Linked DNA regions of Homo sapiens. The protein of the gene in region 2 binds, or shares a complex with, the protein of the main gene of each other region. Each region holds a gene or a part of one and is shown on either strand. Other genes may lie near its edges.

What was found. The genes of interacting proteins can lie anywhere in the genome.
Region 1: ACTL6B (region 2) and SMARCD1 share a complex: the UniProt entries of both Homo sapiens proteins name them as parts of the BAF complex.

The regions. Positions count from the first base shown.
Region 1 is NC_000012.12:50,095,263-50,099,012, reverse strand, and holds part of SMARCD1 (SWI/SNF-related matrix-associated actin-dependent regulator of chromatin subfamily D member 1), read right to left. Parts: intron 2,164-3,750; coding exon 2,041-2,163; intron 300-2,040; coding exon 198-299; intron 67-197; coding exon 13-66; 3' UTR 1-12. UniProt on the Homo sapiens protein: Involved in transcriptional activation and repression of select genes by chromatin remodeling (alteration of DNA-nucleosome topology).
Region 2 is NC_000007.14:100,649,756-100,653,505, forward strand, and holds part of ACTL6B (actin-like protein 6B), read right to left. Parts: intron 381-3,750; coding exon 283-380; intron 1-282. UniProt on the Homo sapiens protein: Involved in transcriptional activation and repression of select genes by chromatin remodeling (alteration of DNA-nucleosome topology).

The DNA of each region.
Region 1 (3,750 bases), on a different chromosome or scaffold from region 2:
GTGGGAGAGGCCCTATGTATTCCGGATTCCCAGGGCTTGCTCTAATTCTTGTCGTCTCTGCTGCACCTAAGGAGAAAATAGTGAAGGGAGTGGAAGATGAGACAAACCAGAAGTTGGTATCTAACACCACTGACCCCCATCAGGGGTGAAAACCCCGTGCCTTTTGTCAATTTCCCCCGTGCACCCCATGTACTTACCTTGGAGTAGAAGTATCGGCACACAGCCTCCTGAGCCCAGGGCTGGAAGTAGAACTCAGCTCGGCGCTCCTCCTCTGGGTTACCCACCACATCAGTCATTGTCTGAGGGAAATGGAGATGCAGGGTGGAGGAAGAGAGAGGAGAAAAGGCTTGTTTCCTTCCTTCACACCCATTATTGGGTAAATTGTATCCTTCCCCAAAATGTTGAAGTCTAACCAACCCCTAGTACCTGTGAATGTGACCTTATTTGGAAATAGGGTCTCTACAGATGCTCAAGTTAAGATGAGGTCATTAGAGTACCCCCTAATATGACCGGTAGGTTCCCTTATAAAGAGGGGAAATTTAGACATGGAGACAGACACATACAGAAGGAAGACAACGTGAAGTCACACAGAGACCACCACCTACAAGCCAAGGAATGCCTGAGGTACCAGAAGCTGAGAGATGCACAGAACAGAGTCTCCCTCCCAGCTCGCGGAAGGAAGCAGTGCTGCCCACACTGATTTTGGACTTCCAGCCTCCACAACTGTGAGACAAGCCTGTTGTTTGAAACTGCCCAGTTTGTGGTAGTTTGCTACAGCAGCCTCAGCAAACTGATACAACACCCAGTCACCTCTGCAATCAACAAGTCGTTGCCTTGTTCAGGGATCTTTCCTGGCATCCCTTTTTCCTTGCTCCTCTGCTCAGCCTCTCTAACTCGTCACAGTCAGCACAGGAGGGGTGACAACGGATGAGTTCATACTCTGTGCCCATTCCTATCTTCTTGTCTGAGCTTACTGTGCTCCCCTTTCTGGGAACGTCTTCAAATCCCAAATTTTCCATGAAGCCTTCCCCAGAGATTCTAGTCTCACTGATCTCCCTTATCTGAATCATCTTATTGGTCCTGGTCAGTCTAATAATGTCTTTTTTTTTTTTTTTTTTTTTGAGATGGAGTCTCACTCTGTCAGCCAGGCTGGGAGTGCAGTGGCGCAATCTCGGCTCACTGCAGCCTCTACCTCCCAGGTTCAAGCGATTCTCCTGCCTCAGCCTCCTGGGTAGCTGGGATTACAGGCACCCGCCACCACGCCTGGCTGATTTTTTTATTTTAGTAGAGATGGGGTTTCACCATGTTGGCCAGGCTAGTCTCAAACTCCTGACCTCAGGTGATCTGCCCTCCTCAGCCTCCCAAAGTGCTGGGATTACAGGCGTGAGCCACCGCACCTGGCCTGATAATGTCTTATGTGGTTTACTACTTTGTATCATACTAGCCTAGTTTCTTTTTTTTGAGACAGAGTTTCGCTCTGTCACCCAGGCTGGAGTGCAGCGGCACGATCTTGGCTCACTGCAACCTCTGCTTCCTGGGTTCAAGCAATTCTCCTGCCTTAGCCTCCCAAGTAGCTGGGATTACAGGCGCGCACCACCACGCCCAGCTAAGTTTTTGTATTTTTAGTGGAGACGGGGTTTCGCCATGTTGGCCAGGCTGGTCTCAAACTCCTGACCTCAAGCGATCCGTCGGCCTCGGCCTCCCAAAGTGCTGGGATTACAGGTGTGAGCCACCATGCCCGGCTATACTAGCCTAGTTTCTTCAGACAGAATGTAGGCTGCTTTGAAAGCAGAGATCAGGTCTTCCACTCTGTATCCCTGACAAGATGAAGCACAGTGACAGACAAAGTAAGCACTAAATCAACACTTGATGGCTCTGCCCCCATTTCCCTGCTTAATTGCAAAATGGACCCTGGAACATGCTAAAGAAAAATCTGGCCCCTCACTCCTTCCTCTGGGTCTCCTACCAGCTGCTACATGAATAAAGCAGCTGTGCACCTCACTGACCTAAGTCCCTTCAGACCTCTCCTAGGTTCTTTACCTTGAGGTCCCTGCACTGGGACTGAAGCCAGTCATTGATGAAACCCTGAGGGTCTCTGGCAAAGCTCAGCATGAACTCCCGCTGAGTCTTCAGCTGGTTGATGGTTTCTATTGTCTCATGGATCTGAAAGGAAGAACGAAGCTCATACCATTTTCAAACTAGAAAAATGAGAAGTTAAATGGCAGGTGGTGCCTGACAACTCCACATGCCACTTCCAACCTAGTCACCATGCTGCCCACAGCTGGCACCATCATATAGAGCTCCAACTGCTCCGACCCTTGGCATTCTTTCAGCAAGTAATTTGCCCTTGTTTCTGTCTCTCTGTATACCCCATGTGAGGAAAGCTTTCCTTTTGGTCTCCACATTGCCCACTATGGGCAAAGCTACATGATGAATACTTACTCCACAGCACAAATGGGTCCAAAAGTGTTCTCAGGAAGAAAAGGACTGGCATATGGGGCTGTCTCATAAGCTCTCATCTCTGGGTTTTGTTCTCAACTCTCTTCTCATTCTGCATACTCCTCCCGGCAATTTCTTTGACTTGTATATCTTCCATTACCAGTGACAGGGTAATGAGTCCCCAGTCTGCAGCCCAGAGTCTATCTTCTATACTCCAACCAATCCAACTGCTTAAACTTGACATTAAACTCACTACCGTTTCTCCAATACCTGCTCCTCCTCCTCCCCTCTTCCCAGTCATAGTAAATACTACTGTCCACCCAAGCTAGAGACCTGGGAGGCATCATAACATTTCCTTCTCATTCATCCCTCACTCTAATAATCCAAACAGTGGCCAAATTCCTTCAATTCCACCTTGACACCTCTCAAATCTATCTACTTATCTCCACCCTCACTGTCGGGACTGTAAATTTAGGGCCTCAACACGTCTCACATGGATTACTGCACCAGCCTCCTAACTGGGCTTCCTGCCTCCAGCCCTGCCCTCTTGACAAATTATTCTCCATCCACCTTCCTGCAAGTGATCATTCTATATACAAATAGCATCAGTCCCTCCACTGGTAATGATCTCTCAACCAGCTGTCTTACACAGTCTTCGGGATGAAACATAAACCAGTTTTCCCTGAATCAAAGGTTCTTCATAATTAGGCATCTGGCTCCCTATCTAGCTTTCCTTCCCAAAACATCCCGTCCTCGGCACTCTATGCTGCATCTAGCATACTAAATGGCTCGTACTTCTTTAAGACACCAGGCTCTCTCTCTCTTCTCTGGACCTTTACATGCCCTATTCCCTCTTTCTGGAACGTCTTCTGCCTCCTATGCCCCCAGCACTACTATCCTTTTTGCCCTTTCATTAACACCCACTTTGTCCTTCAAGATTTAGTTGGGGCCGGGCGCGGTGGCTCACGCCTGTGATCCCAGCACTTTGGGAGGCCGAAGCGGGTGGATCACCTGAGGTCAGGAGTTCAAGACCAGCCTGACCAATATGGTGAAACTCCGTCTCTACTAAAAATACAAAAATTAGCCGGGCGTAGTGGCAGGTGCCTGTAGTCCCAGCTACTCAGGAGGCTGAGACAGGAGAATTGCTTGAACCCAGGAGGCGGAGGTCGTAGTGAGCCAAGATCATGCCATTGCACTCCAGCCTGAGCGGCAGAGCAAGACTCCATCTCAAAAAAAAAAAAGAAAAGATTTAGTTGGGGCATCAACTCTTCCAGCAAAGCCTCCCTTTCTCCTTCATGTTCCCAAAGCACT
Region 2 (3,750 bases):
CTCCTCTGTCCAGTTCCAGCCCCTACTCTCTCCCGGGCCCAGCTCACTGTCTGCTCAGCCTGATCCGGGGAACCGAAAGGGGCCGCTGATCTGGCCACCCCAGAGTCGGAGGTGCTCAGTCCACTGGGCCTTCTGCACTAGTGGGGCAGAGGGAGGTGTCTGCCCATTGGGACACTGATCTTCAGAGAACCAGGCCTGACCCTCCAGCTCATCACAGCTGAGCTCAGCACAGGCCCCACCCCAGCCCTCCACCCAGTCAGAGCAGCTCAGTCCAGAGGATACGCGGTGAGCACAGCCGTCTTGCATAAGAAGAAGGCAGGAATGTTGTACTGCTCGAACATCAGCTCTGTCAGCTTCTCCCGCTTGGCCCGTGTGTTCCACTGTGGAGAAAGTGCAGAGGGGGAGGATTCAGGAAGGGAGAGGCACAGACCCACATCCACGCACACGCAACCCACTCACTCACACATACACTCACGGTCACACACACACATCCAAACACTTGCACACACATACACAACCTAAACACTCACACATACACTCACGGTCATACACACATGCATTCACTTGCACACACACACACATACACTCAAACACACACACATACACTCACATTCACAGACACACATAAACACACACATGCATTCACACTATACATACACTCACGGTCACACATGCAAACACACTCACAAACACACGGTCAAACACATATATACTCACATTCACACACAAACTCACACACACACATACACATATATTCACACTCACAGTCACACACACATGCATTTAAAACATTTGCACAGGCCAGACAGGGTGGCTTACGCCTATAATCCCAGCACTTTGGGAGGCCGAGGCAGGAGGATTGCTTGAACCCAGGAGTTCGAAACTAGCCTGGACAACATAGTGAGATGCTGTCTCATTAAAAAAAAAATTTAAAGTAAGGAGCTTGTGGGAATTAAAACTACATGAACAGAAATGAAAAACTCAATAGAAGGATTGGAACATAAAGTGGAGGGAATATCTTGGAAACCAAAGGAAAAAGGTAAAGAGATGGAAAATATAAGAGAAAAGGGAATTAAATTAGGGGACCAATTCAGGGGGCAACAAAATCCAATAACAGAAAATCCCAAGAGAGAAAATGGAGAGAAATAAATAATTAAATAAATAATTCTTTTTCACTGAATTGAAAGACATATGTTTTCAGAATGAAGAGACATACTAAGTGCCTAGAGCCATGAATGAAAATACACCACACTGAGGATAAAGTAAAAATTCTATAAACTTTCAGAAAGAAAAACATTACATCAGAGGATCAGAAATCAGATGGTTTCATCCTTCTAAATGGCAACGATATATGCTGGAAGAAGGACAATGGAAAAGTGCCTTCAAGATTCTGAAGAATAATGATTTCTAACCTGGCATGGGATACCTAGCTAAGCTATCAACTCAAGGTGAGACACACAAAAGTCTCAAAAAATATACTTCCCATGACCTTATTTTAAATTTTTTTTTTAGATGCTGGGCGCGGTGGCTCATGCCTGTAATCCCAGCGCTTTGGGAGGCCAAGGCGGGCAGATCACCTGAGGTCAGGAGTTTGAGACCAGCCTGGCCAACATGGTGAAACCCCGTCTCTACTAAAAATACAAAAATTAGCCAGGTGTGATGGGAGGTGCCTGTAATCCCAGCTACTTGGGATGCTGAGGCAGGAGAATCCTTGAACCCGGGAAGCGGAGGTTGCAGTGAGCCAAGATCACGCCATTGCACTCCAGCCTGGGGGACAAGAGTGACACTTCATCTCAAAAAAAAAAAAAAGTTTTTTTTTAGATTATTATTTAATTAATTATTTTTTTAAATGGAGTCTCACTCTGTCGCCCAGGCTGGAGTTCAGTGGCATGATCTAGGCTGACTGCAATCTCTGCCTCCTGGGTACAAGCAATTCTCTTGCCTCAGCCTTCCGAGTAGCTGGTACTACAAGCATGCACCACCATGGCCAGCTAATTTTTATATTTTTGGTAGAGATAAGGTATCAGTATATTGCCCAGGCTGGTCTCAAACTCCTGGACTCAAGGCCTCCCAAAGTGCTGGGATTACAGGAGTGAGCCACTGTCTCTGGCCTCTCATGACCTTTCTAAGGCAGTTACTGAAGGACCTGCTCCATGAAAACAAAGGAATAAGTCAAGAAAAGGAGTCAAGTACAGGAAACAGGACTTCTAACCAGGACAGAGGCAAAAGGATTCTACAAGATGATGGTGAAGGAAGATGCCAGCATGACAGGTCTGTCCCCTGGCAGAGGGCTACTAGTGCAAACTGGACCAGGTCAGTGGGCTCCTGAAGAAATTTCTTCAAGAAATGAAATTGATGAGAGGCCAGGTGTGGTGGCTCACGCCTGTAATCCCAGCACTTTGGGAGGCCGAGGCCGGCGGATCGCGAGGTCAGGAGATGGAGACCATCCTGGCTAACACGGTGAAACCCCGCCTCTACTAAAAATACAAAAAATTAGCCGGGCGTGGTGGTGGGTGCCTATAGTCCCAGCTACTTGGGAGGCCGAGGCAGGAGAATGGTGTGAGTCCCAGCTACTTGGGAGGCTGAGGCAGGAGAAATGGAGCTTTCAGTGAGCCGAGATCGCACCACTGCACTCCAGCCTGGGCAACAGAGTGAGACTCCATCTCAAAAAAAAAAAAAAAAATACAAAAAATTAGTCGGATGTGGTGGTGGGCACCTGTAGTCCCAGCTACTCGGGAGGCTGAGGCAGGAGAACCCAGGAGGTGGAGCTTGCAGTGAGCCGAGATCGCGCCATGGCACTCCAGCCTGGGCAACAGAGCAAGACTATGTCTCAAAAAAAAAAAAAAAAAGAAATTGATAAAATATCTAATGGAATTGACGTCTTGACAAAAGATACAATTGATGAATGATTTAGGGTTCACACTGTTAAGTAGATAGAAAACCAGACCAAATATAATCAAACACAGGGCTGGGATGGTGGCTTACGCCTGTAATCCCAGCACTTTGGGAGGCCAAGGTCGGTGGATCACGAGGTCAAGAGATCGAGACCATCCCGGCCAACATGGTGAAACCCCGTCTCTACTAAAAATACAAAAATTAGCTGGGCGTGGTGGCACGCACCTGTAGTCCCAGCTACTCAGGAGGCTGAGGCAGGAGAATCACTTGAACCCGGGAGGCGGAGCTTGCAGTGAGCTGAGATCGCACCACTGCACTCCAGCCTGGTGACAGAGCAAAACTCCGTCTCAAAAAAAAAAAAAAAAAAAAAAAAAAAAAAAAAAAAAAAAAAATTGAACACATTTTTTTTCCAGTTCTAGGAAAACAAAAAGTTGCACAAGAAAGGAAAGGTGATCATGGTGTATTGCCTGTCTCAGGCCTGATTAGCATACATAGTAATAGGAGTGTAAATATTGGGCTGAGCACAGTGACTCATGCCTGTAATCCCAGCACTTTGTTAGCTGAAGTAGAAGGATCGCTTAAGCACAGGAGTTTGAAGCCAGCCTGGGCAATATGATGAGACCCCATCTCTGCAAAAGATTCTCTTAAAATTATTTCTAATTTAAAAAGAATGTAAATACTGAATACTGATTTCTTTTAAAGTCTAAAATACAACTGGGCTGGGTGTGGTGGATCTCGCCTGTAATCCCAGCCTTTTGGGAGGCCGAGGCGGGCAGATTGCTTGAGCCCAGGAATTCAAGACCAGCCTGGACAACATGATGAAACCCTGTCTCTAAAAAAAATTTAAAAATCAGC